Linked DNA regions of Homo sapiens. The protein of the gene in region 1 purifies or fractionates together with the protein of each later gene. This does not show direct contact. Each region holds a gene or a part of one and is shown on either strand. Other genes may lie near its edges.

The links. The genes of interacting proteins can lie anywhere in the genome.
Region 2: the proteins of PRKAG1 (region 1) and SLC60A2 purify together in Homo sapiens (affinity purification with mass spectrometry; 3 studies listed by BioGRID and IntAct, with this or other methods). This does not show direct contact.
Region 3: the proteins of PRKAG1 (region 1) and ATP2B3 purify together in Homo sapiens (affinity purification with mass spectrometry; 3 studies listed by BioGRID and IntAct, with this or other methods). This does not show direct contact.
Region 4: the proteins of PRKAG1 (region 1) and SLC2A8 purify together in Homo sapiens (affinity purification with mass spectrometry; 2 studies listed by BioGRID and IntAct, with this or other methods). This does not show direct contact.

What each region holds. Positions count from the first base shown.
Region 1 is NC_000012.12:49,001,777-49,005,276, reverse strand, and holds the end of PRKAG1 (5'-AMP-activated protein kinase subunit gamma-1), read left to right. Parts: intron 1-111; coding exon 112-157; intron 158-258; coding exon 259-313; intron 314-643; coding exon 644-770; intron 771-1,354; coding exon 1,355-1,520; intron 1,521-1,681; coding exon 1,682-1,719; intron 1,720-1,986; coding exon 1,987-2,133; intron 2,134-2,270; coding exon 2,271-2,378; 3' UTR 2,379-3,003; downstream 3,004-3,500. UniProt on the Homo sapiens protein: AMP/ATP-binding subunit of AMP-activated protein kinase (AMPK), an energy sensor protein kinase that plays a key role in regulating cellular energy metabolism.
Region 2 is NC_000006.12:111,262,339-111,265,838, forward strand, and holds part of SLC60A2 (sodium-dependent glucose transporter 1), read left to right. Parts: coding exon 1-87; intron 88-1,491; coding exon 1,492-1,608; intron 1,609-3,500. UniProt on the Homo sapiens protein: May function as a sodium-dependent glucose transporter. Potential channels for urea in the inner medulla of kidney.
Region 3 is NC_000023.11:153,516,451-153,520,441, forward strand, and holds the start of ATP2B3 (plasma membrane calcium-transporting ATPase 3), read left to right. Parts: upstream 1-1,191; 5' UTR 1,192-1,425; intron 1,426-1,981; 5' UTR 1,982-2,101; intron 2,102-3,991. UniProt on the Homo sapiens protein: ATP-driven Ca(2+) ion pump involved in the maintenance of basal intracellular Ca(2+) levels at the presynaptic terminals. Uses ATP as an energy source to transport cytosolic Ca(2+) ions across the plasma membrane to the extracellular compartment.
Region 4 is NC_000009.12:127,395,785-127,399,968, reverse strand, and holds the start of SLC2A8 (solute carrier family 2, facilitated glucose transporter member 8), read right to left. Parts: upstream 2,801-4,184; 5' UTR 2,739-2,800; coding exon 2,683-2,738; intron 2,594-2,682; coding exon 2,431-2,593; coding exon of another isoform or gene 2,065-2,430; coding exon 1,858-2,064; intron 1,798-1,857; exon of another isoform or gene 1,656-1,797; coding exon of another isoform or gene 1,635-1,655; intron 63-1,634; coding exon 1-62.

The sequences.
Region 1 (3,500 bases):
CACTTTCCCTGCCCTAAATCCCTCATTCTCATTTCTTTTTCTCCAAGCAAGCCACGAGGGCTTAAGGAAGCAGAGAGATCAGGTCTCAAATTCTGTTGCTTCTGCTTTCAGGTACAGATCTATGAGCTAGAAGAACACAAGATAGAAACTTGGAGAGGTATGTAGAGAATTGGGGTTATAAAAGGATAAAGGGATGGCGGGTTTCTGGGAAACACTTTTCCATGGTGGTATTTTGTGACCCATCCCTTTTCCCTTCAGAGGTGTATCTCCAGGACTCCTTTAAACCGCTTGTCTGCATTTCTCCTAATGCCAGGTGAGTTCCAGTTACCCATCTGTCCAAAAAGCGGAAGAGATTTTGTCATCAGCCTAGCTAATGCCCTAGACACCCAGGGAAAGGGGAAGAAGAGAGAAAAGACACACACACACACACACACACACACACACACACACACACACACACACAGTCTCTCTCTCTCTCTCATTCTCACTCTCTCTCTCTCTCTCTTTCTCTTTAAGTCTGGCCTGTACACTGCCCCCCTTCCCTAACCATCAGTTTTCCCTGTTGAGCAATACACTGTATGGACCTGTTTAATCACCCCCAGCCCCAGCACTGTGGAACTTATTATCTCCCACCCTCTCACAGCTTGTTTGATGCTGTCTCTTCATTAATTCGGAACAAGATCCACAGGCTGCCAGTTATTGACCCAGAATCAGGCAATACTTTGTACATCCTCACCCACAAGCGCATTCTGAAGTTCCTCAAATTGTTTGTAAGTGCTCCTCAGCCCAGTTCTTTTTTCTCTTTTTTCATTGATTGATTGATTGATTGATTGAAAAGAGAGACGAGGTCTCACTGTGTTGCTCAGGCTAGTGTCAAACTCCTGAGCTCAAGTGATCCTCCCGCCTCAGCCTCCCAAAGTGCTAGGATTACAGGTGTGAGCCACTGCATCCAGCCCCACTTCTTATTTATTTATTAATTTATTTTGAGACAAGTTCTTACTCTGTTGCCCAGGCTGGCGTGCAGAGGCGCTATCATGGCTCACTGCAGCCTCCAACCTCTTGGTCTCAGGTGACCCCCGACCTCAACCCCCAGAAGAGCTGGGACTACACGTGTGTACCACCACACCTGGCTAATTTTTTGGTATTTTTTATAGAGATAGGGTTTTGCCATGTTGCCCAGGCTGGTCTCGAACTCCTGGGCTCAAGCAATATGTCCCCCTCAGCCTCCCAAAGTGCTGGGATTATAGGCATAAGCCGGCGCACCCAGCCCTTATTTCTAATATACTGGGTTGGAGGGGGTATCCAAGGGTGGCTTTGGGTGCCTTGAAAGTTAAGCTGATGGTTCTTTCCTCAGATCACTGAGTTCCCCAAGCCAGAGTTCATGTCCAAGTCTCTGGAAGAGCTACAGATTGGCACCTATGCCAATATTGCTATGGTTCGCACTACCACCCCCGTCTATGTGGCTCTGGGGATTTTTGTACAGCATCGAGTCTCAGCCCTGCCAGTGGTGGATGAGAAGGGTGAGAGATTGGGCAGAAGGAGAGGGAGGGAAGATCCAGGCAAGTCAGGGTGGCTCTGGGAAGATCTGCTTTCCCCTCAGCTTAGCCAGGAGGGTGATTCTATGAGTAGGGGGAGCTTTAGATCCCAGATCCTCCTTACTGAGCTGCCTCTGTCCCCCTAGGGCGTGTGGTGGACATCTACTCCAAGTTTGATGTTATCGTGAGTGATTGTGGAGGGTCTGGGAGGTAGGGAAGTGGTGGGGGGGGGGCACTGTTAAATATGGAGAGGGAGAAGGGAGTCTCTTCTGTGATCTAAGGGTCTTAGAAGCTTCCAGGCTTTCAAATCCTATTTGAAAAGGAATTGAATGAGTTGGGTGTGGCTTGTGGCTGACAATTGCCCTGAATCCCTCTGTTGAGGTTGGATGGGTTCAGGGTTTGGAGGCTGGCTCTCTTGCTTCCCTGCAAGCTCCTTCCTCTGTCTCCCCAGAATCTGGCAGCAGAAAAGACCTACAACAACCTAGATGTATCTGTGACTAAAGCCTTGCAACATCGATCACATTACTTTGAGGGTGTTCTCAAGTGCTACCTGCATGAGACTCTGGAGACCATCATCAACAGGCTAGTGGAAGCAGAGGTAGGGAGGCCAGCAACCCTAAAGGAGCTGAGGGGAGCAGCCTTGAGAGTGGGGTTTGGCAAGGAGAGTAGGGGCAGAGGGGCTTCCCCTGAGGCCAGCACTAAACATTCCCTTTCTCCCTTGTTGCTCTGTGCCAGGTTCACCGACTTGTAGTGGTGGATGAAAATGATGTGGTCAAGGGAATTGTATCACTGTCTGACATCCTGCAGGCCCTGGTGCTCACAGGTGGAGAGAAGAAGCCCTGAGCTGGGGGAAGGGGTCATGCAGCACCAGGGGATATGCCCAACTCACTGCCTGCTGGAAGCTCTGTGGGAATCAGATGAAACTTGAGGGAATTGTGACTCTGTTCCCTGTTCAGGGTCCCCTGCCCTTCTATCTGGGAGCTAGGGAAGGTATGGGGGAGGAAAGAGAATGGATTTATAGCTACCCTTACCCTCACACATACACTTGAAAAAACTTTCAGCCTAGCCAGTTCTAGCCCCTGTCCTCTTAGATATATCCCCCTTTCTGGGTGAACTATAGGCTCTGTGCCTCTCAGACAAATTCTGATCTCTAAGAGATCCCCAGACCTCACTTGCCTCTGCCTCCATCTTGGCCCTGATTCAACCCTAAGATAATAGCACAACAAAATTCTTCATAAAGATATTTTTATTCACCTGTTCCGTGCTATATGGAGGAGGCCAAGTCCATTTAGTGACATTTCTTCCCATAATGTGAGTGGGGAGGATTGTGGGGAGGAGGGGCTTTGGGTTCCTGTGTTTGTGCATATGAAGGGAGATGGGGGTTAGGTGGAGGAGGAGAGCAGCGTGGTTAGCTAAGGTTATTGCTTTTTGTGGCAAATCTAATTAAATGACAGGAATCTCTTCACGATATTGCAGTGTTTGATTTTTACAGTTGATGGGTACTACCTTCCTACTTTATATGGCTTCTTCAACTGGTCATTAACAATAATAATAACGTGTGTACGCACACACACACGTACACACACACGAGTAGACAGACTTGAGGGTCTCCTTTGGGCAGAGAATCCTGCCACCATTATCAGCTTTTCTTAGTTGGGGAAGGTTGGACTGTTTGGCTTTTGCTGAGTTGGCACTATCTTTTTTTTTTTTTTTTTTTTTTTTTTTGAGATGGAATCTCACTCTGTTGCCCAGGTTGGAGTGCAATGGCGCAATCTCAGCTCACTGCAACCTCCGTCTCCCGGGTTCAAGTGATTCTCCTGCCTCAGCCTCCTGAGTAGCTGGGACTACAGGCGCGCGCCACCACGCCCAGCTAATTTTTGTATTTTTTAGTAAAGACGGAGTTTCACCCATATTGGCCAGGCTGGTCTCGAACTCCTGACCTTGTGATCTACCTGCCTCAGCCTC
Region 2 (3,500 bases), on another chromosome or scaffold:
TTTTTGTGGGTCGTGCCTTGGGATATTTGAGTGGCTCTGTGATTGGTGGATTTCTTGTCGATGTCATGAATTATTTTTTACTTTTGGGTAAGTAAATGCTAATTTTAGCTTCTTTATGACTGTCAAGTGAATTTACAAGTTGTCTTTGAAAATATGAAAATACTAGCATGCAGAATGGTTGGCCACTGAAATGGGTAGTGTTTAGGTGTCCTCAATGGCAGTTGAGTTTCCCTGGTACCTGCTTTCATCTTGACAGTTAGAGGGTATCTGTGCTGGGTCCCTCTGGAAATTTAGATTAGCTCTAGAGTGTCTTAGCAATCCTTAGCCTTTCCAACCACTATAATTTAGCTACCACTCCTGGATCACACACTGGTTGTCCAAAAAACTCTGCTTAGAGGGTTTAGGGCAGATTTCCTGGGGTCACCACAGATCAGAATGAGCTCTTTGAACCTGCCCAGGCTACACCCTGGATTGGGAATGAAGAGGGGAAGCGAGGTTGGGTGGACTGATGTAGGCTATGTTTTTGTTCCTGCTGCCCCATGTTGTCGTTGGACAACCCCAGAGTGCTCTGTCTCACCCTGGAAATAGATGGCAAAGCTGCTTTTTTTTTTTGAGACAGGGTCTCCTCTCCCTCTATTGCCCAGGCTGGAGTGCAGTGATGCGATCTCTGCTCACTGCAACCTCCCCCTCCTGGGCTCAAGCGATCCTCCCATCTCAGCCTTCCAATTAACTGGGACCACAGGTGTGAGCCACCATGCCTGATTAATTTTTGTGTTTTTAGTAGAGCCGGGGTTTCACCATGTTGCCCAGGTTGGTCTGGAACTCCTGAGCTCAAAGGATCAGCCTCCCAGAGTATTGGGATTACAGGTGTGAGCCACCACGCCTGGGCTGGCAAAGCTTTTAGCATATACTTTTTTTGAATAAATTGAAATATTTAGAGAAAATTTAGATTAATATGATAAAATTGTTTTGGAAGCAAGAATAATTTGTTATTGTTAAGGAATTAATAAATAATCCCTCTTATTTCCAAAGTGGGTTGAAATAACATATTTCTTGTATTTTCCTCCCTATTTCCCAAACTAATTTATTTAGTAAATTTTATTACAAACTACTCTAGTAATTGCATTTTATTTTTGTCTATTTAATTTTTTGCCTCATGTCTAAAAATTCCTGTTAGGTTCTTAAATGTGAATCATTTAAATTAGTTTTGGCTTGTCTCTTTTGGTATAAAACTTTGCCTTATGGTATAATTTACAGTTTGATTACTAGCAGTGCTTTAAATGTATTTGTGTTATAATTATTTATATTTCATAATCCATAAAGATTATAAAAGATTCAAATGAAATAATCACTTTTAGAAGCAAAAACTCTCATCTACTCATTATCTAATTTAAATTTGACCTGATTTTGCATGTTTGGACATTTATGATATTGACTTGATCCATGACTGCATGGATATTATTTTTTATAGCTGAGTTTCTACCTTCCCAGGAATCTCAATGTCGGCTACCACCGTTGGTCTTTATCTTGTTCCTTTTTGCAAGACAGCAATATTACTCACTGTCATGATGTCTATCTTCGGTGTTTCAATTGGCATTCTGGATACAGGTTAGTGAGCTCTTCAACGTCATCTCTGGGAGTAGGGACTTGCTAGAAGAAGTACAGCAGATGATACTAAACTGTCACTTGCAATGCCCCCTAAAATGACACAGACCTACTGAGTTGGTTGTGAGTCACTCAGAATGAATCACCCTTCTAGCAGCTATTCTTGCCAATTAGGGGGCCTGTTTCTGAGCAGCCAACTCTGAAATGAACTTAAAGAATTTTGTTCTATGAGAGATAATTGATTTACATTGTCCAAACAGGGAAGGGCCCCTGTGTGGGTAATTACAGTGCAGGTGAATAGGCCTTCATCTTGGGGTAGAACTTTATTGCTCTAGTATGGGAGGAATTGGTGGTTTAATAGGTTAAACCAAGTTTGGAACTGTTATTTGGCTGAGAAAGCATAGAAGCAGCAATCCAACTTGACATTTACCCTGACTTCCAAGCCAAGAGAGATCCATAGTGTGGACTAGGCTCTTTCTTTTTCTTTCTGTCCTCAAAGTTCCTGGCCTCCTGCAGTAGATTCTTTCCCGTATCATCATCATGTCTTTTAAAACTTACTAAATAGGCCGGGTGCGGTGGCTCACACCTGTAATCCAGCACTTTGGGAGGCCGAGATGGGTGGATCACGAGGTCAGGAGATCGAGACCATCCTGGCTAACACAATGAAACCTCATCTCTACTAAAAATACAAAAAATTAGCCGGGTGTGGTGGTGGGCGCCTGTAGTCCCAATTACTCGGGAGGCTGAGGCAGGAGAATGGCATGAACCCAGGAGGCGGAGCTTGCAGTGAGCAGAGATCACACCACTGCACTTCAGCCTGGGTGACAGAGTGAGACTCCATCTCAAAAAAAAAAAAAAAACCTACTAAATAACGGCGGGGTGGCTTACGCCTATAATCCTAGCACTTTGGGAGGCTGTGTCGGGCAGATCACCTGAGGTCAGGAGTTCAAGACCAGCCTGACCAATATGGAGAAACCGCGTCTCTACTAAAAATATAAAATGAGCCAGGCATGGTGGCGCGTGCCTGTAATCCCAGCTACTCAGGAGGCTGAGGCTGGAGAATTGCTTGAACCCAGGAGGTGGAGGTTGCAGAGAGCCACGATTGTGCCATTGCACTCCAGCCAGGGTCTCAAAAACAAACAAACAGAAAACCTACTAAATAACATAGATGACATCTGTTTACTCCTAAAACCAGCTTTCTACCCCTCCCTTCCCTGCTTTGCTGTTACGTGATCTGTTGAGGAAATATTTTATTTTACTTTAGGGTTAATTTTGTTATGAAATTATAGGGTAGAATTATATATTTATCTGAAAATATCTGTTGAAAAAAAAGAAGATAGCTCAAGATGTGCTGCTTCTTGCCTTTCTCCTCCTAGACGTTTAGACAGTATAAATTCAGATGCTAAACGGTGTCCTTGTTTCCTCTAATGGGCATACCAGAATCCTGGCTATTCAGGTTCCTGGACGTGTGTTTTGCATCTGTTACATACATAAGTAAGTAATTTTCCTCAAGTGGCTACCAACAGCAAGTACAGAAAGCTTTGGTAATTTGGCTACTATCTGATGATAAAATTTTGCCTTTTAAATATATATTTAAAATATTAATATATAAATATTTCTTCTGCAGTCTGATGTTAGAACTGTATTATAAAAAGCGTCTTGCTAATGTGCTTGGTTCTAGGAGGTAGTAGTCTACTAGACTGTAGAATTCGATTTGTGAGTATGTGATGTTATAATGCTTAGAGTTGTCTGGTGGTAGTGGGTTAGAATTCCTTTCTCAGAATTGATTTAGTTGCAATGTTTGATAATTAGAATATTATAATGCTTGTGCTATGTAAAATAGACTCACCCCCTTTCTGATAAGTGAACTTTTTTTTTTAATAAGTAAGTAACTG
Region 3 (3,991 bases), on another chromosome or scaffold:
CACGGCACCAGCTGCTTCCTGTGGAAGGGAGGGGCAGTCTGTGGGGGTTGTGACGGTTCCCTGGTCTCAGGGGCAGCAGAAGCTTTCTGTCCTTTTGGTCCCTAGCACAGTGGTGCCTCCTCAAAGAGGCCTTCCCTGAGCCGCCAGCAGCCTCTTTCATGGCTCCCCATCAATGGGGTTCCATAGCTCCGACCCCAGCGGCGTGAGCACATTTGCCATCCGACGGCCACTCCCTGCTTTGTGGTCCCTGCTGTGTCCCCAGTATTCAGCTCTGGTCTGGCACACAGCATGTCCAGGGCCCTCTTTGTCCAAGGCAAGAAAGAATTTGAGGCTGCGTCCAGGCCTCTTGCACCTGCCTCAGGCTCCCGCCCAGAGCCTCTACCTGTGCCCCAGCGAGCATTCTCTGCTCGCTGCTCAGAATGCTCGCAAAGGCCGGCCCTGGGGTCAGAGGCCTCCACAGCCCCTGGAGCTGGGAAGCCTGGGGGTCCACCGGCAGGCACGGGGGTCTCTTTCCAGGTAGGTGGGAACGCGTGCTTGTGGGTGTGGACAGGTGTCTGCACTGGGGTTTGTCTGTGTGTCTGTCTCCACTCACACCGGGGATGTATGTGCCCCTGCGTGTCTGTCTCTGGTGCCCACCTGTGTGCAGTCTCTGTGTTCTGCCTAACGGTGGTGTTCCCGTGATAACCGACGGTGAGGATCTCCGGTAAGCGCCGCTTCCTCTGGGAAGACGCATTTGGACGCCCGTACTCTCAACAGGTAATGGAGTTTGCAGGAGACCACCAATGCCTTGGAGTCCACTGAGGCAAGACCCAAGGACCCCACGCTACACATCAGCCACCCGGCTCTGTGCCCCATTTTACTGTTGGGGAGACGCACCTAGAGGGCAGGGTCTGGAGAGGTAGTGGCAGCCTCAGTCGCAAGCTCAGGGTGCTCTCTCTGCACTCACAGGTGCCATGGTCCCCCAGTTTCCATCCCCACCCACCCCCACTCGGCCAGTGCCCTTTGGGGGCAATGCCAGGCCAGGAAGGGCGGGCACCCTCGCGCGTCCTGGGGACAGAAGGGCGCGCACCGGGCGCGTAGCTCCTGAGCCCCGAGGCCCCTGCGCCGCGCACCGCCCCCCGCGCCCGCTCCCTCCTCCCTCCCTCCTCCTCACCCAGCTCCCTCCCCTCCCCCCTCCCTCCCTCCGCGCTCAGAGCTGCGGTTGGAGCCGAGCGCGCCGCGTCGCCCGCCGCCGGTGCAGAGCGTGGGGAGCACTCGGCCGCAGCCCTCGCCCGCCGCAGAGGGTCGCGTCCCGCGCCGCCGGCCAGGCCGCCCCGTGCCCAGGCCTTTCCATCCTTGGAGCGGATCGTTGCCCGCCTGACGCCCGCCCGCAGCGACAGCGCCCGCCGGAGCCGAGGCCGCGGCGGCGGCCGTGCCCATGCCCGGGTAAGTGGTGCTCTGGGCGCGCGGGCGCCGCCGGGGTGGGCGCGGGCGCGGCGCGGGCACAAGGCGCGGGTGGGGATGGGAGGATGACCCGGCAGGTGGTGCGGCGGCAGGTAGGGGGACACGGGTCCCCGCCCGAGGCACCTGAGCCCCGCGCCGGGCCTGCGTGTCCTTGCGGCACTGCGGCCGCGCGTCACCCCGGGGCCCCAGGCCGGCGGGCAGCGCCCCGCACCCTGCACCCTGCGCCCCGCATCGCGCGCGCACGCGCATCCGTGTCTGAGGAACAAGGCCCTTGGGGGCTGCGGGCCGGGGCTCAGGGTGGGCGCAGCCGGGGGCGCGGGATCTGGGCCGGGAGCCCGCCAGTGCGCACGCACCTTCCCGGAGCCTCGGGCACCCCCTCCCCCCCGCGCCCTCACACTGTATCATCCTTCCCCTCTCGCCTTCCCGCACCGTTCCCCGCACGCCCACGCGGCTGCCCAGCAGACCCCACCGCGGTCATGGGCAGTGCCCACGAGAAGCCGCCCGGGGCCGCACTTAGGTAACTTCTCCATCCCTCCAGGAACGGCTGTCTCCCCCTCCTCGCCTGTGTGACCTTGGCCAGCCAGCTTTTCCTGTGGCCGCCTGCGTTTTCTCACGGGTGAAAGCTCTGGCTTTAAGATTCTGGAATTTGGAATGGCAGGTGCGGCATCTCCCAGAGCCTGAGACGATGGGCTTCTCTCTCTGTGACCTGGTGTCCTTCCTTCTGCTGGCCCTTCTGGGGGTTGGTGGCTCAGCCAGCCGGCTGAGGAGGGGTGGGAGGCAGGGCAGGGGCATGGCGCCGGGGCAGGTCAGGACTGGAGGGAGTCTTGGAGAGCCCGCGGTGAGGGCTCCATGAGGGTTTAGGAGAGACTGTGGAAATGCTCCTTCGCTCACTCAAGGGGCAGGGAAGGGACCAGAATTCCTCAACGAGATGCTTGCCATTTCCTGGCGAGGTCATATAACTTTCAAAGATGAAGCCCAGGGCCTCCGACCTCAAAGGAGTCCCTGCCTGCTAAAGGATCAAGTCCAGCCTGTCCCCAACTGGCCCCCATCCTGAATTCCACTGGCACCCTAAACGTCAGCCGACTTCCCCTGGCTGACTTGGGCACCAGTCTGGCAGGCACCCCCTGCACCTCCTCCCCTCCTTTGCCCACTAGGATCTGTGCCCTCACCCCCTGCCATTGCCCCTCACTAGTCAGTGACCATCTTAAGGCAAGGACTGGCTCTTCATTTGCACAGGCCTGGCACAGAGTGGGCACCTGGTTTCTGCATGGCATATTCATGACCTTGACCTCACTGAATCTGCAGACTCACTGAACAGGAGAGGCAAGGCCTGGATTTTTGTCCCCATTTTTCAGATGGGATCATTGAGGCCCCCAAGAGGAGAAGGGATTCAGCCCTGAATTGAGGCCCCTTCCTTCATGAGCAGATGGCTAGGGACATTCCTATGAACCTGGTGGGGCAGGGAGGCGGGGAGAGGTTATCGTAATAATCAAAGACCAGCCCCACTTCCTGAGCTCCATCTGAGTCTCACCTCAACCACACGAGTGAATGGCTGTTTTCATCCCCAACCCCCACCCCCCGCCGCCACTTTTCACAGATGAGGAAACCGAAGCCATGTGGCTCATTAAAGGGGCACTGGGATGCCGAGGAGAGGGCTGGGGATGCCTGGGCCCCTGTGGGACACAGCTGAGACCCAGCAGAGGGTCCCAGGGTGAGGTCAGCCCCTCAAGTCTGCGCCATCGGAACGGGCTGGGAACTTGTGGTCCCCGGCCATTGATTGTCACTGCTGCAGGCCCCGAGGCGGGGGACAGCCAAGGACACAGCCAGTCTCCATCAGCTCCACCTGGGCCGTGCCCTGCACGGCCAGGTGGTTTGAGTGCAGGAGTAGGCATGCTCTCACACAGCAGGGGGTAACGGGCAGATGGAAGTGGGGCGGGCGTGGGAGGGGGCCTTGCACAGGGCCAGAAGGAGAGCCGGTCCCTGAGGAAGGAAGCCCCTAAGGCAAAGAGCATGCCAGGGGACAGCCACAATGCCAGGTGATGGAGATGCCCCAATCGGCCCCCGAGGGGCAAGGAAGGGGCCAGAGGAGGCTCGTGAGGGTGCCTGGGGCTTCAGTGACAGCAGCCCCTTACCTGATGGTCTTTGTGACCTTGGCCAAGTCCCTTCTCCATTCCAGATCCAGGGAGGGTGGGGGTGGGCCTGGGGGAGCTGGAGCTTCAGAGGTTGAATCATTCACTAGCAGGAGAAGCCAAGCCTGTGAGTCAGTGAGTGCTCTCCATCCCAGAACGTCTGCTCCCAGCCCAGGGATGCAGCCACGGAGTGCCGGGGTCAGCCGTGGAGGACCCTCTGAGAATGTCTTGTGGAAAGGGGCGCCTTGCCTGCCCGGTAGACAGGATGAGGGCGCCCCAGAGCCCCAGGGGCTTCTGAGAGCTGAGTACCCTCTGGGCCTCTTGCAGCCAGCAGAGCCAGGCAGAGCTTCTTCTGGCCTTTTCACCTCCTCCCCCACCTCACAGAGCAAGTCATCAGCACATATGAACTCCCCTCTGAT
Region 4 (4,184 bases), on another chromosome or scaffold:
AGCTGCACACAGGAGCCGAGCAACCCCCGGACTGCTGGGTAGGCGATTTCGGAGATGTAGACCTGCCAGCAATCAGATGAGGATTTATGGCTGGGCGCAGTGGCTCATGCCTGCAATCCCAGCACTCTGGGAGGCCGAGGCGGGCAGATCACCAGAGGTTGGGAGTTTGAGACTGGCCTGACCAACAGGGAGAAACCCCATCTCTACTAAAAATACAAAATTAGCTGGGCCTAGTGGCACACATCTGTAATCCCAGCTACTCAGGAGGTTGAGGGAGGAGAATCACTTGAACCCTGGAGGTGGAGGTTGCGGTGAGCCAAGATCCCACCATTGCACTCCAGCCTGGGCAACAAGAGCGAAACTCCGAAATTTTTAAATAAAAATTAAAAAAAAAAAAAAAAAGATGAGGCTTTACTCAGGCTCCAAGAGTTCTTAAAATGGAAAGGTCTCAGCCATTCAGAGCTGAGGAAAGTCCTTGCAGGGGGTTACGGCAGGCCCTGAAGCCCCTTAGTGGAACCTGCCTAGGTGAGCAGAGCCATCCCCAGGTCCCCACCACTGAAAGATCTGTGGCAGGTGTTTAAAGGGGATTAAGGGTAACGGAGAGGGCTGCATATGATGACGAGAGGCGGTGGGCACAGAGCTTCTCAAGCCTTCGTTTAATGTGCACAGACACCCTGGATAAATCATAGATTCCGATGCAGTAGGTCTGGACAGGCGAAAGATTCCACCTTGTTAACCAGCTCCACGTGACGCCCACCCAGGATCCTAGCCCAGGGCCCACGCTTTGAGTGGTGGCCTTGGACTAGAAGCACGAACTCTCTGCCTCGGTCACTACCAGTGGCTGCCACTAGCTCCCTCCTGGGCCCACAGGCCACCAGGCCCTCACCCATGCATCTAAGGTTATTCCATAGCTTAGGCCCCTAACACAGGTGTGTTTCTGCCCAGTTAAAAAAACCAAAGACATAAAAGGCCCAGCTTCTTCCCCACCCTCTTCTGGTCCAGCTGCTGCTGCCGGTTAGCAAACGTTGGTGAAATGAGCACCCAGGGAGGGGCCTGAGTGGCTGCTTTCAACCTCACTTGGGGGAGATATTGTCCAAGCCCATGGCTGGGGGCAGTTCATGGGTCACCAAGCTGTCAGGATCCAGTCCTCTACAAGCCATGCCAGGGGCTGTCTATCCAAAGTCCCACTGAATCCTGACCACTACCTCAGGGGCTAATGCCATAATCCCTGTTTTCCAGAGAAGGAAACTGAGGCCCAGGGAGGCACTCTGCTCAGGTTAGTGGCAGAACCAGGATTTGACCCAGATGTTCGGGGCTCCCAAGTGGGCAGCCTGGGTCAGGAGGGGGAAAGGGGGAAGATGGGGAAGCCAGAGGGGCTGGCCTGTGAGAAGGGAAGGGGAACACAGAGGCCAGCAGCCTTTGCCCCAAGAGAAATCAGGACAGGAACTTCCTGCTAATTGCAGTCATTGACCCGAAGCCAGGGATGAAAACCAAAATGTAGGGAGTGGGCTCCTGTGGATCATCCGCAGGTTTGCAGAGCAAAAGAGGGGCACGGCTAAGTGGGACAACCCTGGGTTCCTGCAACTGCTTCCCCTCTGACTAGCTGTGGACCTCGCCTGGGCAAAGGACTTCACCTTTCCGAGACTGCATGTCATGACCTCAGTGTAAAATGGAGAGAACAGTAGGATCCTTCCCAGGGTCGACGGGAGGGACCGCGAGATAACGCAGGGACTTCAAGCCTGGCACCCAGAAGGTCCCGCCAGGGGGAGCCGCGCCCCCAGGCCTGGGGAGCGGTTTGTCCCACTCCCCCTCGGTCTCAGGCCGCGAGACAGGACACTCGAGAGACGGGACACTCACCGGGGCCACTAGGGAGGCAACACCGCAGGCCAGGCCGGTGAGGAGGCGGCCCCCCAGCAGCATCCACACGTCCTGGGCCGCGGTGATGACGGCAAAGCCGGCCACGAAGGGCACGGAGCACAGCAAGAGGCTCAGCTTGCGCCCGGCGCGGTCCACCAGCCAGCCGCCCAGCACTCCCCCCGCCGCGGCACCCAGGGTCACGACAGCCTGGAGGCGGGCGGCTGCTGAGGAGGGGGCGCCGAAGCCGCAGCCCATCCTCCCCCTCCACCCACTCCCCGCGGGCTCAGAGGTAAAAGAGCCGGGGCCCCGCGCCCGTCCCGAGGGGAGGGGTAGGGGGCTGAGGGGCCCGGTGCTCGTCCCGAGGGGAGGGGTGGGGGCTGAGGGGCTCGATGCCCGTCCCGAGGGAAGGGATGGGGGGCAGAGAGGCCCAATGCCTGTCTCGTGGGGAAAGGTGGTGGCGGCGGGGCCCGATGCCTGTCCCGAGGGGAAGGGTGGGGGGCGGAGGGTCCCGATGCCCGTCCCGAGAGGAGGGCGTGGGGTCCCAGGGCGGGAGGAGCGAGCCCGGGGCCTCACCCCGAACCAGGAGGCGGCGGCGTCGTCCAGGCGCGGGGCCGGGGGCGCGGCGCGCTGCAGGCTAGGGATGGCCGGGGAGCTGTAGCCGAGCGCGAAGCCGAAGCTGAGTGGGCCCAGGGCAGCGGCGAAGGCGGCGAGGAAGACGCGGCGGCCGCGGGGCGCGCTGGGGGGACAGGGCCGAGGGTGAGCGGAGCGGACGCGGAGGGGCGGGAGGGCGAGGCCGCATCCGGGCCCGGGTTCCCCGGAGCTCACCTGCCGCCAGGAGGCCCCAGAAGCGGCTGGGTTTCCTCTGGGTCCTCGGGCGTCATGTCGGCGGCCAACGCCGATCGGCCAGCTCTGGCGCCTGAACCGCCACGGGCCCTGCGAGTGCGGCCCGCACCGGCCTCTCGCAGCCAATGGGCGGCGGGGGGTGGGGGACGGTGCTGGGCGGGATCGGAACCGCAGAGCAGGAGCAGCCAATAGGAACGCAAGGCGGGGCTAGCGAATCAGCTAGGACCCGCCCTTCACATTAAAGCAGACCAATGGGAGCATAGAACCGATTAGCGAAGCGCGCTGGAACCGCCCCTAGGGCGGAGCGGTCCAAGGTACAGGTGGGGCGGAGTTTCCGTCTGGGAGAACAACCACCCAATTGGAGTGTAGTGCGAGCCCATAGACGGGGCCAGAGAGCTGCCTCAGAACTGAGCTGGCCAATGAGGTTGGAGGGAGGAGTTTTTTTTCTGGCACCTCCTCTCAATCTGGCTTCAACCAATGAGGGTAGAGGCGGGGCGAAGGCGAAGCACGTGGGCCTCAGCCCGAGACTTCCCGCCCCCAACTCCGAGAAGCTGCACCTGTCCTGCCCGGTCGGGTCTGCAGTTCCTGCTCCGCTTTAATCGCTGCCCTGGGGACTGTATTGGAGGCGTCTGACCTATGCCTGGGCCCAGCTCTGCAGGGGAGAGAGCCTCTAAGCAGACCGTCCTGGGCCGCCTCTCTCTCCTCTCGGAGGGCGAGACTGGTCAGACGCTCCCGCTGGGCTGCTGGCGGCGGAGGCGTGGCCCTGTGCACCGAAACCCACTTTCATGCTTCCCAGATTGCTGAAGGCTCGGGTCTCCAGGTGCTGAGGACCAGTGGTAGGTGGGGTCCCCCACGCCGTATGTGTGACAGATCTGGGCTCCACTCCCCCTCTTAAGTGTCACTCACTTCACAGGGAGTCCTGACTCTTGAATCTTCATCTACCTGCCTCCATATTTTGAGTTCCCTGTGGATTTTAATGCCACCTTCTCCCGTGTGCACCCAAGTCGAATGATGAGGCACTGTTGGATCTCACCAGTTGTACCCGATTCATACCCAACACTCTGGGTGCAGGCAGCTGTGGTGGAATGCTGGTGTAATTCTGGAAAGAGCCAGGGCATGGGAGTAAGAGGCTTGGCTTGTAATCCCTCTCTGGGCCTTGTGTTTCCTCATCTCTAAGTGGGGATGACCATTATCTTCCAGGAGAGTTGTGAAGCAAGGTAATGTATATAAGACATGTGAAGCACTCAAAGGCTAACCGGTATGATGAAGACAGTCATCTGATATGTTGCAGTCACTTGATGGTTCTAGCAACCAACATTTTTCAGTCCTGACCACAAGCCTATCCTTAAAGACTTAGGCAACTGCCCTTCTGTACTCCCACAGCATCTAATGCTTGATAACTCGAGCACTAGATGTGTATTCTTATCACAGCATTTATCACTGCTTTGTGATCCCTTGTTTACTTCCGTCCTTCCCCCAATGGA